Linked DNA regions of Homo sapiens. The protein of the gene in region 4 interacts with the protein of the main gene of each other region in a biochemical or structural test. Each region holds a gene or a part of one and is shown on either strand. Other genes may lie near its edges.

What was found.
Region 1: the proteins of MPP2 (region 4) and HTR2A interact in a test that uses a peptide from one of them, tested with the Homo sapiens proteins (one large-scale study listed by IntAct).
Region 2: the proteins of MPP2 (region 4) and GPRC6A interact in a test that uses a peptide from one of them, tested with the Homo sapiens proteins (one large-scale study listed by IntAct).
Region 3: the proteins of MPP2 (region 4) and SLCO1A2 interact in a test that uses a peptide from one of them, tested with the Homo sapiens proteins (one large-scale study listed by IntAct).

The regions. Positions count from the first base shown.
Region 1 is NC_000013.11:46,834,554-46,838,053, forward strand, and holds part of HTR2A (5-hydroxytryptamine receptor 2A), read right to left. Parts: intron 1,087-3,500; coding exon 284-1,086; 3' UTR 1-283. UniProt on the Homo sapiens protein: G-protein coupled receptor for 5-hydroxytryptamine (serotonin).
Region 2 is NC_000006.12:116,826,284-116,830,442, forward strand, and holds the start of GPRC6A (G-protein coupled receptor family C group 6 member A isoform 1 precursor), read right to left. Parts: upstream 2,801-4,159; 5' UTR 2,731-2,800; coding exon 2,537-2,730; intron 1-2,536. UniProt on the Homo sapiens protein: Receptor activated by multiple ligands, including osteocalcin (BGLAP), basic amino acids, and various cations. Activated by amino acids with a preference for basic amino acids such as L-Lys, L-Arg and L-ornithine but also by small and polar amino acids.
Region 3 is NC_000012.12:21,332,118-21,336,290, reverse strand, and holds the start of SLCO1A2 (solute carrier organic anion transporter family member 1A2), read left to right. Parts: upstream 1-1,373; 5' UTR 1,374-1,464; exon of another isoform or gene 1,465-1,581; 5' UTR 1,582-1,643; coding exon 1,644-1,703; intron 1,704-4,173. UniProt on the Homo sapiens protein: Na(+)-independent transporter that mediates the cellular uptake of a broad range of organic anions such as the endogenous bile salts cholate and deoxycholate, either in their unconjugated or conjugated forms (taurocholate and glycocholate), at the plasmam membrane.
Region 4 is NC_000017.11:43,901,037-43,904,536, forward strand, and holds part of MPP2 (MAGUK p55 subfamily member 2), read right to left. Parts: intron 3,458-3,500; coding exon of another isoform or gene 3,425-3,457; coding exon 3,394-3,424; intron 529-3,393; exon of another isoform or gene 248-528; intron 1-247. UniProt on the Homo sapiens protein: Postsynaptic MAGUK scaffold protein that links CADM1 cell adhesion molecules to core components of the postsynaptic density. In CA1 pyramidal neurons, required for synaptic KCNN2-containing channel function and long-term potentiation expression.

The DNA.
Region 1 (3,500 bases), on a different chromosome or scaffold from region 4:
ATAATTATACAATAAAAGTGAATCATTTTAAAGACATATCATTTACAATGTTATAAATAAGTATCAGAAAGCTCACAGCTGAAATGCTGTCAGAACATTTTCCAAGCACACATTTTGTAGCATTGAACCCCGCTTTTCATTGACAGAATAAAATGAGGCATACAGATATGATCGTTGGTTCCACTAGACTTGTCTAATTTTTTCCAATCTCATATTTTTTTTTTTCCAGATAGGTGAAAACTTGCTCAGTGTGCCTTCCACAGTTGCCACGGCAACTAGCCTATCACACACAGCTCACCTTTTCATTCACTCCGTCGCTATTGTCTTTAGAAGCCTCTTCAGAATGCTGCTTTCCTAGAGCAACCATTGAGCAGTCATTATCTGTTGTCTTGGCATCTTGCTTTGAATTCTTTTTTTGTCCCATTTGAAGTTGGCTAGACTTGTAGGCCAAAGCCGGTATTGTGTTCACTAAAATTAACTGCAATGGTTTTTTGTTTTCCTTGTACTGACACTGAATATACCGTGAAAAGGCTGACCTATAGGTCTTGTTGAACAGTGTGTAGACTAGTGGGTTGACTGCTGAAGAGAGATAACCGATCCAAACAAACACATTGAGCAGGGCCCCAATGACATCCTCATTGCAGGACTCTTTGCAGATGACGGCCATGATGTTTGTGATGAAGAAAGGGCACCACATCACCACAAACAGGAAGAAGACGATGCCCAGCACCTTGCATGCCTTTTGCTCATTGCTGATGGACTGCATAGTCCTCCTGCCTGTGTAGGACCCTGGCTCCCTATGGATCGACCGCTGGAAGAGCTTTTCTGAAGACAAAGAACTCTGAGGGAGGAAGCTGAAAGAAGCTAATTTGGCCCGTGTGCCAAGATCACTTACACACAAAGTAGCTTCTTTCTGGAGTGACTTGATAGTTAGAAAGTAGGTGATCACCATGATGGTTAAGGGAATGAAAAATGACACAAAAGAGCCGATCAGGACAAAGTTATCATCGGCGAGTAAGCAACTCCCCTCCTTAAAGACCTTCGAATCGTCCTGTAGCCCAAAGACTGGTATTGGCATGGATATACCTGGAGTTGAACAGAAAATGAAACATGATTATTAAGGAATTAAGTATATGAAGGCAAGAGCATCATCACATAATATTGGCTATTGAAAAGATTTTATATCATCGTTTAAAAGCTTAACATACTTTGAGAATTTAAAATTCCTTTGGACTTACATATGTGTTTTGTAAGTATATATTATGTAGTTACTTGTATGTTATATTGCCCTATATAGCTAACCCTTATAAAGAAGTATAATAAATCTAGCTTTATTTTTTATGCCACATTTTTCTGATTATAATATTATACTTATTAATTGAAGAAACACACAGAGAGGCAAATAAACTAAAAATTGTCCAATAACGTCACCATCTAGAGATAGCCACAATTAACAACTGATGCTGTTCATTTTATTTATTTATATATTTATTTATTTTTGTCTATGAAAATCTAGAATATAGATTTGTTTCTTTTTTTGATGCTGTTCATTTTAGATACATTCACACACTTACCATGTGCACACATTTTAAAACAGAATTGAGGTTCTTTTTCACAAATAGTTCTGTATCTTTTTTAAAAAATCTAATAATATGTCACAAGCATGGCTTATATATAAAAATAACTATAAAATTTTAAATATAGTTTATTTTCTCTCTAGAAAATTTGGGAGGTACAAAAATGTAACAATGAATAAAGAAAAATAATATGTATTCTCACCAGTCAGGGGCAACCATAATTTACATTTGCATCATTTCTTCTTCCACTTACATGTACATATAAAAGCAAATGTGTATATGCAGTACTTTACATGCAGTACTTTGTACCTTATATGTTTTAGATCTTCCTATTCCATTTAACATTATAAATCATGATAATTGCACATAAAATATTTTTGAGAAATACAATTTTCTAATATTAATTTAAAATAACCAATTTTAATTCTTTTTAAAAAAGCTTTTATTATGGGACATTTTTAACATACACACAACTAACAAACCAAAAACCAAACCCAGTACAGTGAACTCGTCACCCAGCTTCAAAGATTATCAGCTCAAGCCCAATCTTGTTTCATCCATATGTCCTCTGGCTGCCATCCCTCCCATGTTATTATGAAGCAAATCCTAGACATCATGTCATTCAATCTGAAAATATTTATTACGTAGATCTAAAAGCCATGCACTCTTAGACAAACCTAATATTTTCACAATACCATTCTCACTCCTAAATAGAAGTTTAATATTTCCTTAATATTAAATGTAGAGTTAGTGTTCAAATTTCCAATTGTCCCATAAAGGTTGTTCTATGTTTTTAGTAGTAGAGCATTCATAAGGATGGATTGCAAAAAACAAGACAGCCATAGACTTTTTATTGACAAATATAAAAAGTAGGTATAGGATGAGATAATACAGGGGAACATGGGCCTATATGGTTCATTGCTCCATCACCCAGATTTGGGGGATCTGTAAGGCTCCCTCAGGTACAGGGATTAGGCAGAGGAGGAAGCAGAAGTGAATAAAGGCAACCCCTGGCCTCTAATCATGCTATGTGCCCCACTTGATGATAGGACCTTTTTAAAGGAAGATTCAACTGGCCATGTTGTGCAGTTTCACCACCCAGCCCCCACCATGGACAACCTCTCTGCTCCTGGGGAAATAGGTGTATCTTTCTCTACTGGCCTGGGATGGTTGGTCCAAGGCAATCATGAGATGGCTTATTCTCTCTGCCATAAAGGTAGAATCAGGATGATAAAAAAGAGAGGAAACATGAATCAAGTACTCTGTATAACTTAGTTTAAGATTGTTTCTTTCATGAAATGGTAGATATTGCAGGGACAGCCTGGGAGAAAAAGTCAGAAAAATAGTTCCCTTCTAACTCCTGCCCATATTATCAGCACACTCAGAATTGTAGAACAAAGAGTGTTGTGGTTACTGCTTCTGACCGTCTTTAGAGTCTAATACATGGTCTCACACCAGCCAAGAACACCGGTTTATTCCAGAATTGGGGGCCACTGCCTCACTCTTGCCATCCATCTGGAAAAAGGTTTTTGGAGAATCTCTAATCTAACTTCTGCATACTCAGAACAGAGTTCCGCTTCATCCAAGCACAGGCATGACTGTCCTAACCTCATGTCACCTCACATTGGCCATCGTGGCCAGGAAAGAACGCTGAGTTGATGTAATATTCAACACAAATCTTTCTTAGTGACATTTGCCATTATCTTCAAAGACTTAATTAACAATATTTGTCACTTGCCTATGCAAGCCCATCCAGGATTCTTGGAAGGTGGAGATAAATGACATCAGAGCTGTTCATAAGGACACTTATTGTGGCTAATGACTCTTCATTTCCTCCATCCCTCTCTGTTCCTGGCCCATTGTTTGCAACATTCAAGAAGAGATTGATGAGCTGTGCCTCCAAGGAGAACATCCTCTGAGACC
Region 2 (4,159 bases), on a different chromosome or scaffold from region 4:
ATTCATCCAACAACAGACTAATATCCAGAATATGCATGAAATTGAACAACTCAACAATAAAAAAGCAAAATCTCATTAACAAGTGGTCAAAGAACATGAACAGATGATTCTCAAAAGAAGATATAAATAGCCAACTGGTATATAAAAAATGCTCAGCATCACTAATCATCAAAGAAATGCAAATTGAAACCACAATGAGATATTATCTTACCCCAGTTAGAATAGCTATTACTAAAAAGACAAAAACAAAACAAAAACAAAAACAAAAACAGATGCTGGCAAGGAGATGCAGAAGAGGGAACTCATCTACACTATTGGAGAAAATGTAAATTAGTACAACCCCTATGGGAAAGAGTATGGATATTTCTCAAAAATCTAAAAATGATAAATGTAGTCCAGTAATCCTACTATTGGGTATCTATTCAAAGAAAAGGAAATCAGTATACTAAAGGGATACCTGCACTCACATGCTTACCATAACACTATTTGCAATAGGAAAGATATAGAATCAACTTGTGTCCATCAATAGAAGAATAGATAAAGAAAATGTGATATATATACACAACAGAATAGTACTCAGCCATAAAAAAAGAATAAAATCATATCATTTGCAGCAACATGGATGAAACTGGAGGCCATTATGTTAAGTGAAACAACTCAGGCACAGAAAGACGAATATCATATGTTCTCACTCATATGTGGGAGCTAAAATCATTGATATCATAAAGGTAGAGAGCTGACATTATAAAAGTACTAGAGGATGGGAAGGTGGGTGGGTAGGAGAGGGAATAAAGAGAGGTAGGTTAGTGGGTATAAACATATAGTTAGATAAAAGATAGAAGTTCAATCGTTTGACAGCACAGTTACTCTAGTTAGCAACAATGTATTGGATATTTCAATGTAGCTAGAAGAGAGGACTTGAATTGTTCCCAATATATAGAAGTGACAATAATCAAAGTGGTGGACACCTCAAAAAGCCTGACTTGATCATTACACATTCTAAGCATATAACAAAATACCACATGTACCTCATAAATATGTAAACTAATACGTATCAATTAAAAAAAGAGAAACATAGAAGAGAAAAAGGTAAACGAATAGGTTGTCTGACATTAAATTGTATAATATTTTCGGAGTCCAGCACATGTAAGCTCCATTAGAGTTGGAACCTCCTTGGTGTATTCATGTTGGTGTGCCAGTGCCTATAATAGGGTACAGGTAAGGTAGGCAATTAATAAGTAGTTGTGCAATGTTGAGTGAGTACCATTTCTCTTGATGAGTGACAAAAAGGTAAGAGATTTTCAACGGAGTGATTTTTTAAAATAGGAAATTTCCTTATTTGGTCAAATAACTATTTAGTGTTTTCCATCCTTAATTGTTGGCCTGCAATTGTGGGCCTCAACTCTGCAGTCATTCTTTGTGTGCCAACATAGTGCTCTGAAAATCTTCATTAATTATTAACTTTTTTTTTTACCATTCTCTGGTATTCCTGTTAATCAATGATTATGATGACAATAGCTAAAAGTGCCCAACTTTTAGGGAGAATGCCAAGAAATCTTAGTGTGACAGGGAATCACATTTTATCTAAAAGTATTCTTAGAGGCCTTGGGAAATACTTCGTTGATAAAGAAAGAAAGGTAAGAGAAAAAACAAGATTAAACTTAGACATAGAAACATAAAAATAGAATGAGAATTTTAGAGTTGGAAGGAAGCATGAAGAGCACATTCCATAGCAACAGCAGCTGATGCTGCCTGTGTCCTTAGAGGTTATCCAGGCCTTTGTTTTACAGATGAGAAAATATACACAACAGTGAAATTGGAACTCAGAGTTTAAGTGATCTACCTAAGTTTACAAAATTAGCTTGTCCCAAAACTGAAATGAGAATTAGAATATCCTGTTCTCCTTAAGGAAAATCCATTTGCAACACCTTCCACCCAGCTTTACTTTTCCACATTATACTGTGCCAGTGAAATGTCTTTCTCATAGGTAAGCTCTCACGACACAAAGTGTTCATCCAGCAGGAAGGAGCACTTTGAGTTGAGGAGGGTCTTAATTTATCAGGAAAGAGTTAGACTATTTCTGGAATGAAATGAATGCAGTGTTGAAAAAAAATGTTAGTAAGAAAAAATTCAACTATAGTCTATTTTAAACAAAGCATTAAATAATAGATCTGTGTTTAAAACAAAATACATGTGTGTGATAGAAATACATGTGGGTTATGTATGCTTGTAGTGAAAAATAGGCCACAATGTCTTTTCAAGTGACTTCAGGCATTGTTTTTTAAAGGCAAAATCTAAATTAATATATTAATGAAAAGCATGCATATCCTCTGCACTTGGAGGTTGTTTCATTATACATAGAGGGCTGTTATAGCTCTCTTTTAAAGAAGGATTGCAAGATTAACCATATGCAACTTAAAAATACATATGAGTTTATTTTTTTAAATGATTTAGATATTAATACAAGTTAACAGTTTATATGTCCTAGTCTCATGACAATCTTGAAATCTAAACGTGTTTTTTGAGACTTACTCACCCAACACACTCCTGGATTTGTGGTCGTCTGGGAGAGTCTTCTGAGGACAACATTTTTTCATGAATAGCAAACAAACCTCCAATTATGATATGTCCCGGAGAAGTGGCAGCCACAAAGTCATCAGGGGTCTGGCAAGGCTGTGAAGTAGCAAGAATAATCACAAAGCAGGTAATTAGTATAATTAAGAATGCCATGTTTCTATCTCATTTGCTCAGTTCATGTGAGTTCTTAGGAATCATTAAGTGCACGGAGTGCCAGCAAGATTCCTATTTCACCTGTAAACACCTTATAAGGTATAGGACAGTGTCAAAGGCCAGAAACACTCAGTATTCAGATACTTGATGATAGTCAAAACAGTTATTTCACCAATAAGAACACAGGCTTTTTAACACTCCAGTGTTAGAGATAATGTGATAGCAGTCATGTGATGTAAAAGCTGATAGAATTATAAACACAAGTTTCACTGTAATGGTACTTTTTTACTCTAGTGATATGTCAAGGGCCCTGAGTCACGTTGGCATTTCTTTTGAAGCAGAATGTAGAACTTTCAAGAAGAAGCAGTTTGGAAAAGTTTTTCCACTTTAGAAATAGACAGTTCTGCATTTTAAAAAGGTATCACATTCAAGGCACAAATAATTCAATATAGTTTATCAGGTATTTAGAAAAAACCATCCTGCTTTTATTTTTCCTGAAAAGTTCTGTTTAAAAAATGAAATTCAGTTAAATTTAGGTATTTGTCACTTCCACTTTCCCTGTGTTAGAAATATGTAGCTTTTGTGAAGATGGGTAAAACTAAAAACAAGATGAAACTTGTCCGATACAGTATTTTGCTTTGAACAAGAAAGGTCTGTTCATAGATCATTGACATTTCCACTATTGTGGGTGCTATATTTTAATAAATTTGGGACTGATTTCAGGCTACATATTCTTAAGTACTTAGGATTCTCTGAACTAACATAATTTGTTGGGTGTCTTTTGGAATTTAACAGAGGATAGAGAAACCTCAATAATGTAGTCACCATTAAGAAAAAGTTTAAAGTTTTAAAATGTATTTAATAAAATCAGTCTTTTAAAAATGTTTTATTAAAAATGAATATCTCATGGGCAAGCAGTTTCAAATCCAATACATACAGTTTGTTTGATGGGTAGCAGATACATTTTTTTTTTTTTTTGAGATAGAGTCTCATTCTGTTGCCCAGGCTGGAGTGCAGTGGCAGATACATTTAAAGAAATTTCAAAAAATAAAAGAGTACAATGGCCACTGTGGCATTTTTTCATTATCCAAATTAGCATTAGATTCCATAGTCCTATGGGGTTATGACAACTGAGGAGTGGAGAAGTCACAGCTCATCATGCAGCTTCAAATGTTTTATTAAGTCTTACCATTTTTACTAATGGCAGAATTTTCTATTAGAATGAAAACCGGTTAACTTCAGTTGCCCAGAAAGTTTAACAAACATACATGAGTCTGAAGACTCTTGAGATGTTTAGCAATTACATTTTACTCATCTTAATCTTATTATTTATTGGTATATATGTGTGTGTATGGTATCGGATGGATTTATATTTTCATGAATTTAGTTATTTTGCTCAGATAACCTCAAAGGTCTTATGTAATTACAA
Region 3 (4,173 bases), on a different chromosome or scaffold from region 4:
AAAATAGACATTTAATATAGTAATGTTTTTAGCCACAAAGAAGAGTGAAGGCAATTTTGACGTGGGAGAAGAATAAGTTCTCTCCCTTAGTGTTTGATACGGTGACTATATTGGGCTAAGATAATGGTTAGGAGAGAGAGAAGAGAAAAGGGGAGAGAGATTGGGTTCTAAATGCACGAGAAGAAAGAAATGAGGGCAGTTCAGAACAATAACCTGTGAATTTTTTCACCACTTACATACCAAGCAAATTGCATTTCCTTCTACACTGTCTGGTTCTATTCCAATGTGTTTTATTTAAAAGTTTTATCTTTCCCAATGAAAGTTTAAGTTCCTTGGAATCTGGGTCCAAGTATCTTCCACAGAAACATACTTCTCTCGCTAGTTTATACTCTCTGTAGGCACGTACTTGGCTTTCTTGCTCACTGCTGAATGCTGGTGCGTAGCACCATGACTGGCACAGAGTAGATGTTCAATAAGTATTTGTTGTATCTGTGAGAGAATGTGTTAAAATAACAAAACTCAAACATAATAGTGCAGCGACTATGCCTTGATGTGTGTGTGTTTGGGATTCAGCACATTTGTAGAGGTAAAGCAGTTGGTTTTTTAAAAAATTAGTGCCATTCAGGATCACTTGTTAAATGGATATTGTTTAAAGGACTTAATTAATTAATGCTGGGGATACTGTTAAGAAATCATTCTAGAAACTAGAATAAATATTGCCAAAGTGAAACACTTTGGTTTTGATACAAATTATTGCCTTAGTTTCAAGATGTAAAACAAACAAAATCTTTGATGGGATTAGTAGAATTTATTTGAGTTTAATTCAACTTTTTGTTTTACATATAAAAATGTGTGCCTGTATGTTATACATCTGTACATATATTTCCACATATATCTATACCTATTACGTATAGCTACATATAGATACCCATTTATATGTTTAATCTCCTAAGTCTTACATCTTAGTTTGCAATCGTGGGATTATTTTCCAGATCATAGAATTGTTTGTTATTTTTACTAGGTTGTTTTCATGATTAAAATTCCGTGTCTCCCCAGGTTTCCATGTATCAGCAGTGCCCCAGAAAGTGTTTCCCTTCCTGAGACTCTAGGGAAGCCTTGGAATGCAAATAACTTGAAAAGAGAGCCTGGCCAAAAAAAGATTTTTGAGCCTTGGTAGGGTTAGTGAAGCAGGTTTTTAGTACAAACACAACTCAAAGTATGTGTGTTATTAAAAGTAGCTATTTTCATGGAAGTCTTTTGGTACTATTTGTTTTGGCTAGAGAAGTGAAAAGCTTTCTTTTAACCATGTGACCATTATTTTGCAAGATCATAACAAACAATTCTAATATCTTTAATCTCACTAAAGAGTCACTAAAGTTATTTGATGTACCTTTTGAAATAGAAAACCAACAACTAAATCTTCTCTAACACCATGATTTTCTAATCTGTATTAAAGCGTTCCAGGTATTTTTGTAATGCAATGGATTTCAATTATGTTGTTCATTTTCAGCACTTACTTCAAAAGAATGATGCTTTACAATTTTGTAGTTAATTTAACATATTTTTTTGTTTGCTTGAAAGGGTAGAAGTAAGACATATCAAGATTTAAAACATAAATAGCTTGGAACACCCTGAAGAGCAACATGGGAGAAACTGAGAAAAGAATTGAAACCCATAGAATAAGATGTCTTTCCAAGTTGAAGGTATGGAATTTTTGTATGTGGATATATGTGCATGTACACTAGTTTTTAAAATACGACAGTCCTGGTAAAATTGCTCCTATCTGCATGAAGTGATCTAATATTAATGCCATATTGCCTGTTCTATTGATAATTTCTTGCTTTAAAGAAGTTGGTTTTATAACTGAGGGTGTGTCTACACAGGATTATTGATTCAGGCAAGTTAGTCCTAAATGGCTTTGAGAGACTTAAATGGAAGACAGGATCCTAAAAATTTCCAGGCACACATACTGTGGCAGGATTTATTTTTCTGGATCAAAGGCCATGCTCACTCTTGCAGGGTTTCTAACCCAGAGAAATGTGGGAGTCACTCTCCGAAAATGGCTCATTGCACAGAAATGCTTTGTTGATTTGTATGCAATTACCCAGCAAAACAAATGTTTTCTTTAAGCTTTGGCAACATAACAATAATTTCCTGTAAGAAAAATGGCCATTTTGTCAGCTGTTCTGATTTTTTTTTCTATTTCAGAGAAAATTCTGTTTTCTAGCTTCAAAGTCATTTATATTCAAACAAATTTGAATTTATGATAAACCAAGGGATCTGGACATTTGTCCTGATTCTATAGCTAGTGCCTGCAAGTGGTTTCAAAACTAAGACACTGTCACTCATTTTCTCCCTATCAGAAGTTTGTTTTCCATTTATATGTGTGTTGGGGAAATTTAAACATGTATACAAAATTGGAGAATTATGATATAAATCTAAAAAAAATAGACTTGCCTGAAATGGTATGTTAATTAAGAAAAACTTTTTGTGCTTCAGTTTTCTCATCTGAAAAGGGTAATAGCAACATTCCCACCTTATAGGATTCTTTTATGTTTGAAACAATGACTGGAATATTGTAAACTTTCAATAAATATTAGCTATTAATATTAAAAGCATTTGTGGAGAAAAGTCAAGTGGTATTTATAAACAAGAGGTCTTTAATTTTTGATTGCTTTGGAGTTTAGCAAGGTTAGATATTAATGTGGATGTTAAGACAAAATGCTGTAAGCACAAGTTTATCAGGTAAAAGTGAGAGGCAATTGCTTAATAGCAAGTTAGGTTTCTCTGTTTCTCTGAACTTAGAAATATACTCATTAAGCAAAATTCATTAGGAAGCATGAAAGAACTATTTTTAACAAATTTGCTTTAAACTTTGTTGTTGAAATAAGTTGAAAGGGCATTATTGCTAGAAGCTAGTAGGACCAGCTTTATAAATACAGAGATTATTTAGCACTAGACATGAGTCAGAATAGCCACTGATTTCTTTCACTCTGCGAATAAAACCAAACTAGTTAGGCAACCCATGTGTTTTAGGGGAAAAGCAATGAGGTCATGATCCATCTAATTTCTTTTCTTAACATGTAAAGTAGAATAAATTATTTTTCCAAATTTGATTTGTACTTGATTTAGTAGGACTTGCTTTTAAATATAAAATCTGATTTATAAAACTAGGTGAAAATAGTTTGCTCTTAAGAATACACTCTGAGAAGGTTTATAGTGGGAAGAGAGAATATCCACAAATGGTATTCAATATAAAAAATAGCTAGAGATATGGCCATACTATGCTGTAGTCAATCAGTTTTGATTCATATTAAGAATGCTATTCAAATTTCTAGGTCCTTTTCACATAAATTTCTATTTAGGTCTCACAAAAATAATTGATAAATTTTGGCTTAGATGTATTGTGTGGTGTGAATGTGTCCCATCCAAATTCCCATGTTGAAATCCTAATTTCTAAGGTGATGGCAGTAGGAAGTGGGGCCTTCGAGAGGTGATTAGGTCACAAAGGTAAAGCCTTTATGAATGGGTTCAGTGGCTTTATAATAGAGGACTAAGAGAGATTCACTGCATTTTCTGCCATGTGAAGACACAGTGAGAAAGATGGTAGTTTATGAATCAGTATATACAGCCTCTAAGCCACAAATAAAATTCAACCCTCCCACCCCCTGCTCCCAGCACTGAATGGACCTCCTCTTGGTCAAGAGCCTTCCAAAGTTAGTCTAAAAAACAAGTTTAGGCTGTTATGGGAAGGAGGTGTTGGACATGCCTCTTTATACCCTCCTCTCTTTTGGAATTCAGGAATAACCAACCATCATTAACATCAACACAGACCTTAAGTCTGATAAGAAACATTTATATCCATTCTCTATGAAGCCTGCGTATCTAGAGGCTTTATCTGCATGATAAAACCTTGGTCTCCACAAGCCCTGATTGTAAACAGGAAATAATTTTTTATTATTGATAATAACTCTTCCAACCAATTGCCAATCAGAACATTTTAAAATCTACCTGTGACCTGCAAGTTCCTGCTTTGAGTTATCTTGACCTTCCCAATTGAACCAATGTAAATCTTACATGTATTGATTGATGCATTATGTCTTCCTAAAATATATAAGAGCAAGCTGTACTCCACCTTGAACACATGTTTTTAGGACTTCTCTGAGGCTATAC
Region 4 (3,500 bases):
ATGCCCTCTGACCTCTGCTCTCAGTCCCCTCTCCAGGCCCTGTTTCCTTTACAATAGTCCCTCAGTCTAAGGAAGTCCCCAAGAACGACTCAGCCCTCCACCGGGAGGCAGCCTCACTTGGGCATGGGGCAAATACCTCAAGCCTCAGACGCCTCCCCCTACCCACCCTTGGTCAGCCACTGGGAGGCAGGGTACGTGGGGGAGGTGGCATCGCTGTGGGTAGGGATGGTGCCCCAGCCCTGCTTACCCCTCGCCTCACAGCAGCTTCTTCCCCTCCCCCATCTCCCATGAGTTCTTCCTCTTAATGAAGGGGATGATGCCCAGGAAGCAAGTCAGGCATCTTGGAACTCAGTTCCCCAGAAAGGAAAAATGAGGGCACATTTGCACACAGGGAAAAGTGTGGGCAGAAGGGAAGGACTCAGCTCCGCTCCGGTGACCCCATTCCTCTGAGATCTTGTGCCCAAGAGGCCACCATCAGGGTACTGCAGCCTCCACTCAGACATTCCCTGAGGAGTGGCACCAGGTCGCATTGCACCCCTGGTTGCCATGACAGTAGAATTACACACCAGGACAGTAACCCAGGGATGGAGGAGAGATTTAAAGGGACAGCTCCACCTGAAAGCAGCCACATATCCCAGCCTTGATCCAAAAAAGGGAGGGAATCTGGTGACAGGGGAAGAGGGAGCAAGGCTGCAGGTCAGGAGATGCCAGGTTCAGGATCTCTAAGTTCTCAGCCCAGTGCCACTGTCCATTTATCTCCCAAGTCTCAGGAAAAGGGCCCCTGACTCTACCCAAAGTAGATATGGGGTCTCCCTGCAAGAGGAATACACCCATACCCTTTCCCTCCCTTCAACCATACTGACCCATGGGGAAGGGCGGAAAAAGGATCTTATTAGCTTTGCCCTTTGCAGAGTCCAAGGCAGGGATCTCCCAGGGGAGGAGGAGGGAAGGGGAGCCTGAACTCAGAGGCAGGGACACAGCTGTCTCTCTATCCTGTGGGAAGTATAATGACCACCAGATAATAAGGGGCAGAATCCACCATTAGATTTTTGAAGCTGGGAGCTAATGTAGCTCAGGATAGGACAGAGGCTGCCTGAAGGAAGAAAAACACTTTGTACTTCTTCCTTTGAATATGAGAAGCCAGGAGCAGCCCCTCGAACAACATGAAGGGGAGCAGGAGCCCCAGGAGTCCTTTGAGGAAGCAGAACCCACCGCCACACCCCAAGGCTCCACTCCCTGTCCCCCATCCTCCCCCACCACGCCCCCATCAAGTGGTCTGCAACAACGAAGCCAAATTGCTGGGCTTGCTCCTCCTCCTACGCCCCAGTCAGGCACTATTGGTGGGTTTACTGGGCAGTCCCGGCTGGAGAGGCCATTAAGCACAGGCTCAGGGGTGGGTTTAATTAATGCCTAAGCAGCTTACAGTGGGGCCTAGGCAGGCTGAAAGAGGCAGGGAGACCCCAGGGAGCCCAGCAGGCTGGACAGGAGATGGGGGACTGAGCCCTCTGATGCTGCAGAAGCTGGGGACATTGGTGCCATCCCTCCACTGCAAGGAGAAGAGGCCTTTCCTGGACAAGTGTACCACAGTTTAGGCCCTGGCTCACTCCCTTCACTTTCTCGGAGAGGAGGCACAGAGGAATCATTCTACCCAAAGTGGCAGCCCTGGAACCTCTGGCAGAGGCAGTAGTGGGGCCTAGAGCAAGGGAAGGAGCTGCATGGGAGGGAGGCATCCAGGCAGGGGGAAGTTCAGACAACTCAGAGCAGAACCATAGCAGTTCCCAGCTGCCCGGGCCTCAGAGGGCCTCTAGCACAGGGAACTTAACCTTCTGGGGTCCTGCGTGCACTACGGGAATCCATGATCCCCTAGAGTAGAATATACCTTTTGTGCATGGATGTATATGTCTACGATGAGGGCTCACTGCTGTCACCAGATTCTAAGTGACTCAGGACCAATAAAATTAAGAACAGGCCAGGTGTGGTGGCTCATGCCTGTAATCCCAGCACTTTGGGAGGCCAAGGCAGGTGGATCACCTGAGGTCAGGACAGCCTGGCCAACATGGTGAAACCCAGTCTCTACAAAAATACAAAAATTAGCTGGGCATGATAGCAGGTGCCTGTAATCCCAGCTACTTGGGAGGCTGAGGCAGGAGAATCACTTGAACCTGGGAGGTGAAGGTTGCAGTGAGCCGAGATCCCACCACTGCCCTCCAGCCTGGGCAACAGAGGGAGACTCCATCTCAAAAAAAAAAAAAAAGAAAAAGAAAAAAGTTAAGAACACTGATCTTGTCCCATCATCTCATCTTAGGGAAATCTCAGGTCTTCAAAAGGAGGTGACTGTTTCAAGGACACAGGGTTAATGCCAAAATAACAACTCAGGCCAGGCACAGTGGTTCACACCTGTAATCCCAGTAGTTTGGGAGGTCGAGGCGGGTGGAGTACTTGAGCTCAGGAGTTTGAGACCAGCATGGGCAACATTTTTGTCTTTACGAAAAATACAAAAATTAGCTGGGCATGGTGGTGCACACCTGTAGTCCCAGCTACTTGGGAGGCTGAGGTGGGAGAATGACTTGAGGCTGGTAGGCAGAGGTTGCAGTGAGCCAAGCTTGCGCCACTGCACTCCAGCCTAGGCTAAAGAGCCAGAACTTGTCTCAAAAACAACAACAACAACTTGGTGGCAGCGGCAGCAACAGCAGCATAATAATTATGACTATTCCTAAAAGTAATGTGCTCTCCCATTACAGCCTTTGCGTCTCACAGCAGCCTCTTTACAGAAGAAGAAATGCGAGCTCCAAGAGGTTAAGCAGTTTGCCACTGAGGCTTTGCTAGTTTGTCTGAGTGGCCCACTCCCTTGTCCTAATGCCTCCTACAGAGCCACGTCCAGGTATCCTAACCTGGTATTCTTGTTCCTTCACTCACAGCTTCCTGGTCCCCAGTACCCCCTGTCCACCTCTGGCACATGCTGGCCTAGTGGGCAGCGATTATGGACTTCTCAGCCCCAGGCTGTGCTGCTGTAATCCCTCCACCCCCAAGCCATTCTCCAAGGCCCAGCTCCGGGGCCACCTCCTGAAGGCCTGGTCCTATGCCACTGCCCTCCAGCAATAGTACGGGTCACCTCTGGAGCATGCATCCCCTGCCCTCCACGGAGGTGAGTTGTGCTCCAGCCCTACACTGGAGCAGGTATGGGTCTTATTCTTTCTCTTCTCCGTTCCAGCACAGGAACCCACACAGAGGAGATGGCCACAGCAGCTGCCAGAAGGAATGGCTGAGTGGTAGGGTGGACAGCAGTGGAGCCAGTTGGTTCTTATCTGGAGCTGTGCAAGTGCCCACCCCTAAGTCCTCGCCTGGCACCCTCTGAACCACTGAAATAAGCTAACATCCTCACCCCCTTCTTACCAGTTTCAGAGTTGGTGGCGGCAACCGGCATGGTGAAGGAGGCAAGGGCTCTGAAACGTCTCTCCTGGAGAGGGGAGAGAGGAGGATGAGCAGATACAAGGGCAAAG